Linked DNA regions of Homo sapiens: region 1 is linked to region 2. Evidence: fine-mapped expression QTL. Tissue or cell type: cerebellar hemisphere. Region 2 holds a variant in brackets; the other region holds the start of a gene. All regions are shown on one strand. Distances are from middle to middle.

Region 1 (8,108 bases), 320 kb after region 2:
ACACCATTGCACTCCAGCCTGGGTGACAGAGTAAGACTCCGTCTCAAAAAAAAAAAAACAAACAAAAAACCTTTTTTATAGTAATGCCATTCATTTTGTCATTCCCTCCAAATTATTTGCCAAAAATCCTCTTTCACTTTTGCTGGAAACCAGGAATTGGAAACCTGTGACTTGCAAAAGCATTTTTACCTAGTTATTAGAATGTTCACTTTCTTATTTTACAGGAAACATACCAAAAAAGGTTTTACCAAGACACATCGGCTGCAGGGCAGCCACAGATACCTGCGTTGGTTGTGTACTATACAACTCCTGAGAGCAGTGTTTACACTGTACTCTACTTAAGTTGCATGAGCTGGAATTGTGCAGTGCACAATTTGCAAAGCTGTATGTGGTAGCCTTATACATTTTACCTACTATTGTTTTTTATTTTGAGACGGAGTCTCACTCTGTCGCCCAGGCTGGAGTGCTATGGCGCAATCTTGGCTCACTGTAACCTCCGCCTCCCAGGTTCAAGAGATTCTCCTGCCTCAGCCTCCTGAGTGGCTGGGATTATAGGCGTATACCACCACACCTGGCTAATTTTTGTATTTTTAGTAGAGATGGGGTTTCACCATGTTGGTCAGGATGGTCTTAAACTCCTGACCTCATGATCTGCCTGCCTCGGTCTCCCAAAGTGCTGGGATTACAGGCGTGAGCCAATGGGCCTGGCCTTTTTTTTTTTTTTTTAACTTGGCAGCAACTTGTTTAATCCAGTATGTAAATGAAGTATACAAAATGTTCTATCTATGCCCATCATCTACACACATTGTTAATGATATCACAGCATATCAAACATTTAATGGCATGGCTGTACTTAGTGGAAAGATGTACTAATAAGGTAAAAATTATAAATAAAATCATTATTTTTAGAACTCGGAGTCCTTTGAAAGCTGAAGTGTGATGTCAATAAGTCATCTAACTCCATGCCAAGCTTAGTATCTGCCAAATCATTTATGTCTCATTTCCATGGCAGCACTTTATTTCTTTAAGACTTGGAACCACAGATGGCACATCTGTTTTCTTGAACGGTATCATTAATTTATTTGATTTATGAATGCTAATTATATGTTTCTGAATGCATCAAATCTATCAGCATTTGCAATGGTCTCTTTGATAAGCACATGGTAAAGAGGAACTATGCCAGGCAATACCCTTCAGGACCTGCTCTTCTCTTAGCAAAGTGAAGCAGTATAATAGTCTAATATGTAATATACACTGATATACACTTTTAAGTAGTAATTCACAACCAGGGAACATCACGAAATGAAAGCAAGAGTTTTAGTTGGTTCATGCAGCCATCTGAAATAACTGCATAAATGAGAATATAGTGAATTCTATTATTCATGAATCATTTATTATTACATGTAGTTATGATTCCAGAAGCCCTTACTCCAAGTTAGATGGAGCCTATATTTTTTTATACATCAAACTTGGCAAACAGTAATTATAGCTGCAAAAACAGCCATCTCTACACTTCAGTGACAAAAATGGAGAGAAGTCTCCTTCAATCAGTCACAATTGTGTCCTTGAATGGCAACAGTGACAACAGCATCACTATCAGTTATGAAGGGCAAGCTATAATTACTATTAACTATGAAGTTCATAATTTCTGAAGAAATGTTAAGAAGATGCTAATTTCCAAATTAAGGTTGTGATGCAGAATTAAGTGTAAATATTCTTTCATTATAGTAGCTAACATTTATATATCAAGTCCTAAGTGCTTCATTATTAATTTGTCTTTCCAATAACCTTAGGTTAGGTTGAGAAAGTATCCATGTTGTCTGTGTTTTACAGATCTGAAGACGAAGGATCAGAGAAGTTTAGTAATTTGTGAGAGGCTATATGTTGGATAAGTGGCAGAGATGAGCCTTAAGCCCGAAACTAAATCTCATATGCTTTCCTTTTCTAACTATACTGTTTACCAGATGTTGGGATGTTAAACTTTCATCCTTCTTCCTTTTGGGTCCAACACATTCTCTTATTTGTCCATAAGAATCACCTGCTGCCCTTGATTAGAATGCAGATCCCTAGGTCTCCACCCCGCAGACGTCTGTGCGTGGGGTGTGGTAGTTGTGGGGGCTGCATAACCAGCATCTTACATAATTCAATTAAGATGATCTGACTTGTGGAATTAAACTAAAACCCACCCACAGGAGAACCAACAGATGCTATTTATTCAGAGTTTGCTGTAGAAGGGAGTCCCACTCACCATCACTTTGTCAGAGGCTCAAAGGTGGGGCAGACGAGTGGGAAAGCTTTATAGAAGTGAAGAAAAGCCCCCGGTATGCTCTGATTGGAAGTTGTTGGCATGGGAAAGCTGCAGGTGGGCTACTAGAAGCGGGGGTATTTTATGTGATGGGTTTGCGGAACATATTTGGCTTTCTCTGGTTGGTGCAGAGGTGGAACTAGGGGTAAAAATAGGGAAGTTGCACTTTGGAAGTCCCAGGCAGGAAGATCGCTTGAGTCCAGGAGTTTGAGACCAGCCTGGGCAACATAGTGAGACCCTGTCATGAAAAAATATTTAAAATTTTTCAAAAATTGCACATCTGTAGTCGTAGGTACTTGGGAGGTTGAGGCAGAGGATCTCTTGAGACCAGGAGATCGAGGCTGCAGTGAGCTAAGATCGTGCGACTACATTCCAGGCTGGGCAACATAGCAAGACCCTGTCTCAAAAAAGAAAAAAAATAGGGAAATTGCCAGTCGTTGACTACTTCCTGACTGTTCTGGTTCAGCTGCTACCAAGGTTGTGGTCTGGCTTCCTGGGCTTCTTATGTGGTTCAGAGTTCTGTTGTCACATACTATCTGGCCATTCATGTATATTGCGTTTCTGAGACCATACTCTGGGAAACACATGGTCCTCTGGTGGTGGTGAAGGTCCCTGTGAGCTAGGGACCATCTGTCAACACTCTTATCACTACTAGTGTCTATCCCTATCAGGCACTAGAAGCACTTAATAAAATCTTGCGAATGAATGAATGAATGATATACAAAAATATTTGATACTGGCTTTAGTTGGAACAAGAAAATGAACTTTGTGTACCACATAGACATCTGTGACTAGAGTGGCCGTCACCAGAAAGGCTGCTCCTTCCAGCTGCTATGCTCTAAATACAATAACCTGAATCTTAGCACGACTGGACTTCGCCTGGACTTCGCCTTGGCCCCGGCTGCCCAAAGTTTCTCTCAAAGCTTCAGCTTAACCCCTGATGTGCTCACCAGCACCAAGGCGCCCTCCTGAGTGCTTTGCTGGGGGTGGGATGGCGTTTGTGGGAAAGGCCGGCTACTTCTGGCATTTCAACGGCGCCTCCAATCCCTGACCTTTAGTTGTGCCCCATTCTCTCCACTCTTTCCCCCTTCTCTGTCCTCACGATTGAGTCTGGGCTGGCGAAGCCTACTGAGGGAGGGGAGTGTACACACATGCACACGCGCGCGCGCGCACACACACACACACACACACACACTCATATATGGTGTTATTAATAATTCAGGACTCAGAGTTTATCTAAGAGAAGACGCTCGACCGGGTGTGAGAGAGCGCGCGGGACAGAGAGCGAGCCAAGGAAGGGGAAGGCGGCGGCGCGCGCTGTCTCCTGGGGAAGCAGTCCCACCTGCTGTGGGGGGCGCCGCTGGGGAGGGGCCGAGCCGTGCTCACGCCTGCACGCCCCGCCCCGCTCGCCGCACGGCCCGGCGACGGGGGAGTTCCCGCGAGTGGCCTCGCGCCCAGACCGTGCGGGGGGCTGTTCGGGTGGAGGCGGGGGAGCCGCCGGGACACCAAAATAGGAGCTGCTTGTGGGGTGGAGCGGCACTAGCTGGCGGCTTCCGAGCGCCTCTTCCAAAGATGGTCAGAGGGGCCGGAGGCGTCCCCGCTCCCGCTCGCTACTAGCCCGCGGGCCAGCGCCGCGTCCCGAGCCCCGGCGGGAGGTAGGTGCGGTGTGGACCCGCAGCCCGAGGCCGGCCTGCTGGGAGCGAGCGGGGCCGGGCGCGGGGAGCGGGGCCGGGCGCGGGCAGCGGGGCCGGGCGCGGGCAGCGAGGCCGCGCGGGAGAGGAGCGCAGACAATGGCCGCGCGGGCGCCGGGCCGGGCCGAACGCGTTGCGCTGGGGCTGCCTGCGGCGTCCTTCCCACACCTGCGCGGAGCGCCGGGCAGAGGGACGCGGGCACCGGGCCCGCGGGCGGCACGCGGCGCCCTCGAGTCCAGCCCCGCTCCTGGCCCCGGGGCGGGGCGGTCTCCGGGCGGGAACGTGGGCCGGGGCCCAGGCGCGGGGCGCGCGGAAACCCCTGCGGCGGGCGCGGGGGAGGGGGCGAGGGCTGCAAGGGCTGCGCCGAGCTGCCTTCCTTTCTCTCCTTCCTTAAGCGAAAGGGCTCGGGATTTCCCTTTTCCGAGACCTCTTCTTGTCCATTTATATTTCCATCATCCCTTTCTTGGCATTTCGATGTGATTTGAAAGGGAGACGAGCTTGGGGAAAAGGTTGAATTGGGGCCGAGCCGAGACAGCTGAGGTCCGGCCTCGAGTGGGGTGACCCTCGGACACTTGCCTTGCCTAGTGTGGGATCTCATCTCCGAACGCCAGGCCAGGGTAGATTGCGGTGAATGGAATAGCAAATCAGTACTCTCAAAAGGACTACTGAAAAATCCAGGAGCCTCATTTCAAGCTCCGAGCTACCCTGAATTTAAATTGACCACCATATAAATGATCAAACAGTCCATCCACATTTTGCATTTATTATTTAGATGCTGAACTTAGTCCAGTTTTGGAGTATATCCGATGATAGTCAAGTTATTTAGCGTTGATTATTTGAGAGAATGTGCAACATTGAAAACACATTTGTTATTTCATATTTATTGCAGCCATGGCTCTAAAAGGACAAGAAGATTATATTTATCTTTTCAAGGATTCAACACATCCAGTGGATTTTCTGGATGCATTCAGAACATTTTACTTGGATGGATTATTTACTGATATTACTCTTCAGTGTCCTTCAGGCATAATTTTCCATTGTCACCGAGCCGTTTTAGCTGCTTGCAGCAATTATTTTAAGGCAATGTTCACAGCTGACATGAAAGAAAAATTTAAAAATAAAATAAAACTCTCTGGCATCCACCATGATATTCTGGAAGGCCTTGTAAATTATGCATACACTTCCCAAATTGAAATAACTAAAAGAAATGTTCAAAGCCTGCTTGAGGCAGCGGATCTGCTACAGTTCCTTTCAGTAAAGAAGGCTTGTGAGCGGTTTTTGGTAAGGCACTTGGATATTGATAATTGTATTGGAATGCACTCCTTTGCAGAATTTCATGTGTGTCCAGAACTAGAGAAGGAATCTCGAAGAATTCTATGTTCAAAGTTTAAGGAAGTGTGGCAACAAGAAGAATTTCTGGAAATCAGCCTTGAAAAGTTTCTCTTTATCTTGTCCAGAAAGAATCTCAGTGTTTGGAAAGAAGAAGCTATCATAGAGCCAGTTATTAAGTGGACTGCTCATGATGTAGAAAATCGAATTGAATGCCTCTATAATCTACTGAGCTATATCAACATTGATATAGATCCAGTGTACTTAAAAACAGCCTTAGGCCTTCAAAGAAGCTGCCTGCTCACCGAAAATAAGATCCGCTCCCTAATATACAATGCCTTGAATCCCATGCATAAAGAGATTTCCCAGAGGTCCACAGCCACAATGTATATAATTGGAGGCTATTACTGGCATCCTTTATCAGAGGTTCACATATGGGATCCTTTGACAAATGTTTGGATTCAGGGAGCAGAAATACCAGATTATACCAGGGAGAGCTATGGTGTTACATGTTTAGGACCCAACATTTATGTAACTGGGGGCTACAGGACGGATAACATAGAAGCTCTTGACACAGTGTGGATCTATAACAGTGAAAGTGATGAATGGACAGAAGGTTTGCCAATGCTCAATGCCAGGTATTACCACTGTGCAGTCACCTTGGGTGGCTGTGTCTATGCTTTAGGTGGTTACAGAAAAGGGGCTCCAGCAGAAGAGGCTGAGTTCTATGATCCTTTAAAAGAGAAATGGATTCCTATTGCAAACATGATTAAAGGTAAGTGGAGATTATGTTTATTTTGTATTTTTTAGATGTCTGGAGCTAGGCCAGCAGTCTCACTTCTCTTGAATTTATCACTTTGGGATGCTATCTAGGAACTATAGTTAATTATACAAATAATGCTACACAGAATGTTCCAGATAAAAACAGTATAGCATAGTTCCCAACTTGTCTGAGAGTTATGAGAATTTATATTCAAGTCAAGGGCTAGATGAAGAGACAAATCTGGACAGTTTTTCATTTTTTCATGTTCTTAAAATTGAACCCTTTAAAATTCTGCTATTCAACTTTTTCCTCTCAAAATACGCTGATCAGCTCTCAAGAGGTCCTTCATTAAAACCTTGGAAGGTTTGGTCCCTACAGGATGTAACAAAGTACATTCTTCCAGGAACTAGAGACAACGTCTGCTTTTGCAATTCAGTCCTCTCTGAGAGGGGCAGACACCATACTCTCCCTCATGTGGCCCACAGAACCCGGCACACCCCTGGGTCTCGGTATCTGTCTGATAAACACTATTTTCTGCTGTGTTTGGCGATTTGTTTGCCTTGCTCTCCTTCTCTCCCACTGGAAAAAAAGTTAAACGGGAATCTTATTTCATTGTATTTATTCATTGGTGCTGAGGAGTTGTACAAAAACAACTGGTAGGTCGTTACCAAATTTGTATCATTTTGTCCCAAATGTTTCTTCCCAGGCTTTTCTGTTTCTTTTTTAATGCTAGTGAGAGTGTGGGAATTTGACCTGGTCTGGAAATCTGACCTGGTATGATCCTTGGATGACAGGCAGGAAGCTGAGAGGCAGAACAGTCTTGGGATCAGGCACGCTGCCTCTGAAGCTAAACTGCCTGCATCCAGATCCCTGCTTTCCTCTTACTTGCTGATGAGCTCTGGCAAATTGTTTAATCACCCTGTGCCCCCGTTTTGTCATCTGTATAATGGGGATGACAATATTACCTAGTCTCGGATCATTGAGAGGATTAAATTAATCTATGCTTGTGAAGTGCCTAGAACAGTGTCTGACACAGAGTAAGCATGCTATAAATGTTACGCATGATTGTCCTGAATGTCGGTATTGAAGGACATGTCAGCTCTTATAGAGCAGAAATTGATTTCATGTGAAGTTGTGACCACTGTCACACCAGGGTGGGAGAAGGTAGCAGAAAGCCCGGTGCTGTTGCTCCCCTGGTTTTTGTCTTTGCCTGAGTCTCACCACTACTTGCCGATTCCAGGAGGGCTCTGAATGTCCTGACCCCTCTTCTGCAAAAGAAATAAGAAAAGTCCATATATTTAAGGAGCTATTGTAAACTAGCATACATTTCTGATTCTGTTTTTTAAGGATGATATAACAGTTTCAATGGTTTTGTGGTTCAGAGTATATTTCTTTTTCTTTTTCTTTTTTTTTTTTTGAGATGGAGTCTCACTCTGTCTCCCAGGCTGGAATGCAGTGGCGTGATCTTGGCTCACTGCAACCTCTGCCTCCCGGGTTCAAGCAGTTCTCCTGCCTCAGCCTCCTGAGTAGCTGGGATTACAGGCATGTGCCACCACACCTAGGTAATTTTTGTATTTTTAGTAGAGACGGGGTTTCACCATGTTGGCCAGGCTGGTCTTGAACTCCTGACCTCAAGTGATCCCCCCACCTTGGCCTCCCAAAGTGCTGGGATTACAAGGGTGGGTTCAGAGTATATTTCTTTGAGAATGAAAGCTTATTACTTTACTGAAATTTTAAAAATTTATATTTAGAACAGTGCTTGTTGAAAAAAGATATGCTGCGATGGTGTATCTACTGTGAAACAAAAGCCATATGCATGCTTGCGTTAACCTTGAGTGGAGTAGGAGACCCTCATACCTCAAAGTCCTCCCTCACCTGCTAACTGGGTCTGAAATTCCAGTTTTATACTTTGAACTCAAAGCTTTGATTCTTGTTTATATCTAGTCATCCCAGGGAGAGGTAACACTGCCAGTTATGTGCAGTTTTGACTACTGCTTGTTTTGGTGGGTGGACTCATACA
Region 2 (8,108 bases):
TTGACCTCCCAAAATGCTGGGATTACGGGCATGAGGCACTGAGCCTGGCCTATTATACACTTTTAATGGCCTATTTACTGCCACAATCACTTTTTTATCAAAAATTAAAATTAGATGAAAACTCAAAGCTCTCCACATTCTTCGCCTTTCAGGAAAGAAAAAAACATGTAGTACATACCCTACAAACCTCCATATATGATGTGTGTAAATTAACTTATTTATAAATCACGTACACATGCTATTTTACTACATATTATGTACATTGTAAAATATGTCCCCAAATAGAAATTTTTCAGTATAAGATACATATAAATCAAAATGGAGGCAATTCCCTTCTCCTCCTGAATGGAGTATCTTGCACATGCCTGAGGTGGGTACCCCCTATTCTGGAAGCTATTACCCTAACAGTTATCTGACTCTCACCAGTAAATGAGAGAGAGACAAACTGGTGATCTGGCACAGTGGAAAGAGCAAGGGCTTTGATGAACCCAATCCTGCATTGGAAAACTGTGGTTTCATTAGTGCTGGCGTGACCTTGGCAAGAGTCCTAATCTTGTTGAACCTCAGGGTCCTCTTCTGTCAAAGGAGGGTGATGATACATACAAATGATATTGTCCATAAAACGCAGTGCTTGGCATGGCATTATTATTACTTAGAGCTGAAAGAAGGTTTCAAAGGTCACTTAGGGAACTACTAGAAAGATCCAGTCTCCTGGATTTTTAAAGCCACACAGCTGGCTACTGACAAATCTAGGGCCACCCTGCTCTCTTTACTGAGCTGATGGGCGGCCTCAAAAAATGTACTGTCAGACAAGGTTTCCCTGGGACTGGAAATATAAATTCCATAATGAAATTTTCCACACACGTGGTTACTCCATGTGTAGCCTATTCAGAGAAACAATTAATAGTTACACATGTATAGTTGTTACTAAATGGTTTTTAAAAACCACAAACCACAGAGAAAAATATATCCTATTACCAGTATCAAGAATTAAATATATTTTATTTTAAAATCTATACAGTGGGCAAAGCTCTGGTCCAAAAGGAATGCTACCTAGATCCTAGCCCCAACTGTGACATGGACATGTCACTTGACAACCCTATATCTTATTTTCCTCATACATTAAGTAAGAATGATATTACTTACACTCGTTGCAAGATTAGCATGCAATAATATAGGTTAGGGAAAGGATTCTACAAATAACTATCATTATCGCTATTGTCTCCCCAACAACGATCAAATTATCTCACACACACACATACACTTGAGAACCAGTGTCCTTCCAGCCCAAAGGCTAGTCACTTTAGAGAAGAGACCAAGGCTCACTCTACTAGTCCACAGGTGGTCTCAACAACAAAAAGCACGGACATTTGCTGTCTTCTCTGATCCAAAGACAGAATGTTCCCAGGCATGGACCCACCCTGAGCTATTCCTTATCAGCAGCCTTAGGACCTCTGACCTATAGACCAGGTGGATGGTTTGCTCCATCCGCCTTTGGAATTTCAGGTGGCCAGATTGCAGCATTTCCTACCTGACTAAGACAGCGTCTGCTTTGGCTCACCTGTTTGGAGCTCTAGTCCTTTACTAGGACTGATGCCCTGTTAGCTAAAAATAGGTGCCATATTTTGGGCCTACTGCTGTCCTGGGTATTTTGTATACATTATTTCCATTCCTTAAAACAACCTGTGAAGTGGTGATTATTATTTCATTTTACAGTTACAGAAACTGAGAGCCAGAGGTTAAATAGCTCCCCAAAGTCAGACAGCTAGGAAAGAAAATACTAATCTGGCTCCAAATCACATGCTCTTTCTAAAACATTTCCCACCTTGATTCCCTGTCTGATTCCTGCCTGATCTACCCTCAGATTCTGGACCCTATCTCTCTACCCTTGCAGGGGTGTTGCCAGGAACCGCTCGCTGTACTGGCATCCATTCCTGTATTCTGCTTCGAGACTCACCTACTAAATGGAGCACATTGGAGCTTACGGGAGTGTTCGGTATGACACATGCATGTACCCGGATTTACTAATTGCCTGGCAATCCCATATTGCTACACTCTTCAGGCCCAGGGCATCGTGTTGCACAGCCTTCCCGCATACACACTTCCCTTTCTCTCTCCACTCAATCTCGGTGTCCTCCTGTTTCATGCCAGCCAATGTTCTGAGGTTCCAGCATGCTTCACAGCAAAGCCTATTACCCCAGAATGATGATTTAAGGAATTGACAAATTATTTATTACTTTGGAAAACACCATATTTCATTCAGATGGATAACTGGGATTCACCATTAAGGGGGGGAAGAAAACCACAGTAGGCATCTAGGCTTGTCTTTAGAGACAAAGCAGTCATTTAGATGGAAAACATCTGTGAGTAGCAGGAGTCTTTTTAATCTCCATAGATATAAAGGAATCAGTGTGGGAGGGTATCCCCGAGCCCATTTTAAACTCAGGGACATTGATATGAAATCCCAGTAGAGGGCAATAATCCACATGAAATTTTAATGAGTTCACCCTAATTCTCCAAGTTCTGAGAAATGGAAAAAGCTCCACAATCAAGTTTTTATAGGCATTTGGAAAAGATATTTAGAAAGCACAAATTAACTATGATATCCTAAGAGGGAGTTTTGTGGATCTCACGGAATGGGAATGATGCCATACATTTTGTTACAGGTCACTTTGCTATAGACTTAAAGCCCTGACTTTAAAATAAATGCCCTGTGCTTCTCATGTGCTGGTGAACATAGTTATCTTTAGCTATAGTTCCAATTATACAAATGTATGAATCAATTTAGCAAAATTCGGACCAATAGCCAAGGTAAGCACAGGGTCTAGCAAAGTGGCTTCAACTCCTGGATTAAAAAATAAAGTATGGGCAAGTCATGGTGGTTCACGTCTGTAATCCCAGCACTTTGGGAGGCCAAGGTGGGCAGATCACTTGAGGTCAGGAGTTTAAGACCAGCCTGGCCAACATGGAGAAACCCCATCTCTACTACAAATACAAAAAAATTAGCTGGGTATGGTGGCACATGCCTGTAAACCCAGCTACTCGGAAGGCTAGGGCACAAGAATCGCTTGAACACAGGAGGCAGAGGTTGCAGTGAGCTATCACACTACTGCACTCCAGCCTGAGTGACACAGTAAGACCCTGACTCAAAAAAAAAAAAAGTGTGACTGTGTTTTCTATGAGGCATCTGTGCAGCAACTATTTAAGCAACTATTATCAAGGTTAGATGGGGGGGTAACTCTGTCCCCATCACCAAGAGAGTGTCCAGAGAAATGTGCCAGACTCTTGTGACACCTTTGCTCTCATTAGACTTTAACATGTGATCACACACCACATTTCTCTCTCCCTTCCTGTCTGAGAACTGAACAAATATCAAAAGCGGACTTAGTTTGCTGCAAAGTGATTCAGCAAGGCAAGACGGATGGGGTACGGTTATCCTTCAACAAGTAACCATGCTTCACATGTTTGGCATTGTTTTCTTCTGTGTCAAAAACTATGGTGGGGAAATGAGGAGCCAGTGGTCAAAGGTAAAAACCTTCAGTTATCAGATGAGTCCATCCTGGAGATCTCATGTAACACGGTGACAATAGTCAGCAATGCTGCATTGTATACTTGAAATTTGCTGAGAGAGCAGATCTTAAGTATTCTTACTACACACATACACAGACAAAACTATGTGAGGTGATGGATATGTTAATTAGTTTCATTGTGGAAATAATTTCAGAATATAAACATATACCGAGTCCAGGTGTGGTGGCTCACGCCTGTAATCCCAGCACTTTGGGAGGCCGAGGCGGGCGGATCACCTGAGGTCAGGAGTTTGAGACCAACCTGACCAACATGGAGAAACCCCGTCTCTACTAAAAATACAAAAAATTAGCCAGGCATGGTGGCGCATGCCTGTAATCCCAGCTGCTCGGAAGGCTGAGGCAGGAGAAT[C/T]GGTTGAACCCGGGAGGCGGAGGTTGTGGTGAGCCGAGATCACGCCATTGTACTCTAGCCTGGGCAACAAGAACAAAACTCCATCTCAAAAAAAAAAAAAAGCGTATACTGAAACATCACCTTGTACATCTTGAATATATATTATTTTTATTTGTTAATTATACCTCAATAGAGCTGATGAAGAAAGGAAACTGAAGCCAAATACTTCACCATATTCATGAGGAATGGTAGTAAATGCCCATGGCAGCACTTGTGCAACAGCCAAATTGCTAAGAGAGTCTTAAAGGGTAGAGATCAGAACTAATTAGTGTCAGTGCCCTAGCAAAACAGCTGGAACCTACTCAAAACTTCAGACTTCAAAGAGGACAGAAGTTGGTTTCCACACAAGTTCCCATCAATGTTGACAGGGTCATGGATGTCACCTTATGTCAGGGCTTGTTCATGACTTACTGCTATAATATTGTGTGTTTAGAGATTTTCATGCCAAAGAACCACTCGGATTCTTCTTAATTTGCAACCAAGAAACATCAGGGGTCTTCCAGTTAAATATAGAAACTGGCCCTTACACTTTCCTAAGCCTCTAATGGAGATGATCTCTCCTTGATGTCATTATAAAGGGACTCACTCTGGATGCACTGGGGCCCAGGTATGCACAGGTGGCATTGCCTGTTGTAATTTGATGTTGCAACTCTGGTTCTTTTGTGCTCCTGTTGTCCTCTGGTTCAGTGACAGAGGGGTGGGCTGAGGGAGTCGCTGAGGGATCCCACAGTAGTTTTGCAGCCATAGGGATTATCTTGTCCCAAGCCTGTATGTTCCTTGACTTTTTTTTTCATGTTGCCCATATATGACAATTGAGATAATATATGTCAAGTGCTTATTACAGTACTTGGCACATAACTGGTCAGTAAATATTAGCTATGATTAATTATTCTTTTTTGTCTAAGAACTGTAGCTTAGGTGAGGATCAGAGCAAATCCACTGAGCTTCAAGGGAAAGAAGCAATAAATTTGATTAAAGCCTCATAACTCCATGCCAAACCTCTGCTATAATAATCACAGCTTTATGTCACTGGTTAGCAACACATGAACTGCCAGACACAACTATTTGACAATACACTGTGAACCCCAAACAAATAGGGATAGGAAGGGCAAAAGGAGACAGGGCTCATGCTTACATGTCTGAGATAAGAAATGTTTCCAAGAACTTTCTAAAAACCCTTTTGCATCCTTCATGCATCTCCTGCTTTGCTAAGTTTCATCACTAGACATTCTTTAGGGCTACAAAAACTCAGATAAGATGTTCTCAGAAGAACACTTGCCCAGTAGTGGTACCTCCACCAACGAGCTGACAACTCTGGCTTTGAACCTCTGGACCCAAAAAACTCTTGTTTCTAAGCATCTTATGTAAATTGATTTTTTCCTAATAAACTTTTCCCTTTACTCTTCCCTTACCAAATGCACTGTTACCTTGCCATTTCATGCATTCCGGATTATAATCCTTACTTCTATTCCTGAGTAAACCCAACATATTTAGGGATAGTTTTCTCTATTGTATTTTTTTTAGGTTGCCAACACTGTAAAAAGATAATTCCCCAAAAAAGGTAAAATCATACGTCCATACAGATATAAAAATGAAAATACATTAAAGATTGTAGGCTGGACACAGTGGCTCATGCCTGTAATCTCAGCACTTTGGGAGGCCAAGGTAAGCAGATTGCTTGAACCCAGAAGTTCAAGATCAGCCTGGGCAACATGATGAAAACCCATCTCTACCAAAAAATACAAAAATTAGCCAAATGTGGTGGTGCACACCTGTAGTCCCAGTTACTGGGGAGGCTGAGGTGGGAGTATCACTTGAGCCCAGAAGACAGAGGTTACAGTGAGCTGAGATGGCGTCACTGCACTTCAGCCTGGGTGACACAGTGAAACTCTGTTGCAAAAAAAAAAAGATTTTATTTAACTCAATGAAAAAATTGGAGAGATGTTATACCCTTTTTTGACTATACCCAAAGGAGAAGTCAAAAAAAGCACAAATTTATATGGAATAAAGAAATATTGAAACTAATGCACAAGTGAAGGCAAAATGAGCTTCCTCTGCAGTGGAGAGGGTAGGCAGCAGAACCTTTACTGTACAGAACAAAATTCGTGTGTCTATAGACAAGAATTATTTTGTATTGTCATTAGTTATCTACAATTTACAAACTTGAATATAGCCCCCAAAGAATCAGAACCAGATAACATGAAATGGTGTCACCTAAACAGTGCCTAGTTTTTCATCGAAGCACACATTTTTCCCTACAACACCTATATTTATATCACATTGCGATTAAGAAACTAATGGCAATTGATCTACACGGTTGTCGAAGTAAGTAGTCTGAAAGAATGGTGCAAACACCAAAGATCTTTCAAGGAGGTTGGCCAATAAGACCAAATCCAATTGTTTCAGTCTCAAATCATTAAAATGTACTTCATGTTCGGTAATAGTAATAAACACTATTATGTGTCTAAGTGTCCACGTAGTTGGTTTCAGAATGATGATTCAACCATTATATTGCATGTTCTTTTAGGAGCTACAGCCCAAAGCTGTTTATTTGAATCATTGCTCTATCTACACCTAACCTTCCATCATTTTTTTTTTACCAATGAGTAGGATCTGTGGAATTGGATAGAAAAAGAGCTCCCAGCACCTTAACTGAGATAATGATAATTCTTACATATATTGTCCCAAGTTCACGTGGCATTTAGAATTGCTATCTTGATTAGTAATAAAGATCTTCCCCTAGCATTTCCTCTAGTGCCATTTGGCTTTGATTGTTATTTAATTTCATTTTATTTTACTTGGTTTCACCAACTGAGATTTCATGAGTCTACTAAGTGAAGGAAGCATTAATTCCTCTCTAGCCACAATTGCTTCAATGGAATCAACGGATATCTCTACATCTACTTGTATAACTCAGAGACAACCTTACAAATGGCACACATACCCCCCTTCCTTGTTAACCAAAGGGAGACCAGTGGAAATAAGTGTCATGGGTCTGCCTAATAATGGTATAAGACAAAATAATATTTTTAAAATATTCAACTGACGCAGTTTTGGTGTCACAACCCCTAGTAATTCCTGGTTTCCCTGAAGCTTTCTACTTACCTAGCCTAGAACAAAGAAGACAACTGAGTTGCTTTATCAGCTCACAGAAGACACAACAGTCTGAAAGCCAAAGCCAAGGGATTGAGTTGCAAGTGCTTGAGAAAATACCGTGATGATTTTGTTTTGAATTGCAACATAATTTAACTAAAGGACTAAACATAGAGTTTTAAATTAGCAATAGCAATGGTGCAATATAGAAAGTAAGGGCAGGCCAGGCACGGTGACCCATCCCTGTAATCCAGTACTTTGGGAGGCCGAGGCAGGTGGATCACTTGAGGTCAGGAGTTCAAGACCAGCCTGGCCAATGTGGTGAAACCCCGTCTCTACCAAAAATAGAAAAAAAATAGCTGGGCATGGTGGTGCACACCTGTAATACCAGCTACTCAGGAGACTGAGGCACGAGAATCGCTTGAACCCAGGAGGTGGAGGTTGGAAGTTGCAGTGAGCCGAGATTGCGCGCCACTGCACTCCAGCCTGGGTGACAGAGTGAGACTCCGTCTCAAAAAAAAAAAAAAAAGGAGTTAAGGACAGACTGTTACCCCTTTAAGGAGGGTAAAAGACCTTCCTAGGTTGGAGGAAGAAGGGAAGTTCAAATGTAAGTAAAAGGTCTGCTTCCCAGCTCCCTCTTCCTTTCATCCTGGATGAAATTCAGAAAGTTCCAGACTTTTCTGGTCATTTCTAGATTATAAAAAGCCCAAATGGTCACATCAAGTTGCAAACAAAGTCTCAATTTGGGAAATGAATGTGTTCATTCCCAGGTATTAATAATTACCAAAACATTGGATCTGATTTCACAGTTAAATTTCACCCCCTTTCAATTGTGGTCTTTGTACGTAGGTAACCAAAGAATGGAACACAATGCTATATTCCCAGCCTAGATTTCTGCTCCTTCTCTTCTATTTGCTATCTTGCTAGCTGTGTTTTCTGACTCTTCAAGGGCCAAAGCAGAAGGAGGAAAGAAGAAAAAGGGGAGTGGGAAAAGGAGAAAGAAAGTTTTTACTTGATTGGGAATGTAATAAGATGGT

What was found. PIP is the estimated chance that this variant, and not a neighbour inherited with it, causes the effect.
Region 1: it holds the start of KLHL23, and the variant in region 2 is fine-mapped to the expression of KLHL23 in cerebellar hemisphere (GTEx, PIP above 0.99).

The regions. Positions count from the first base shown.
Region 1 is chr2:169,730,128-169,738,235 of GRCh38, forward strand. It overlaps KLHL23 (kelch like family member 23), which reads left to right and starts at 3,705. Exons shown (of 4, transcript NM_144711.6): 1 at 3,705-3,960; 2 at 4,886-6,100. The coding sequence starts at 4,888. All of the region lies in intron 3 of PHOSPHO2-KLHL23 (PHOSPHO2-KLHL23 readthrough), which reads left to right. RefSeq lists silencers at 3,576-4,015, 4,036-4,105, 4,216-4,395.
Region 2 is chr2:169,405,604-169,413,711 of GRCh38, forward strand. No RefSeq gene overlaps it. Among named protein-coding and RNA genes, the nearest start is that of LRP2, 47 kb to the left of the region's middle. The variant C/T (reference allele first, on the strand shown) is at 3,940.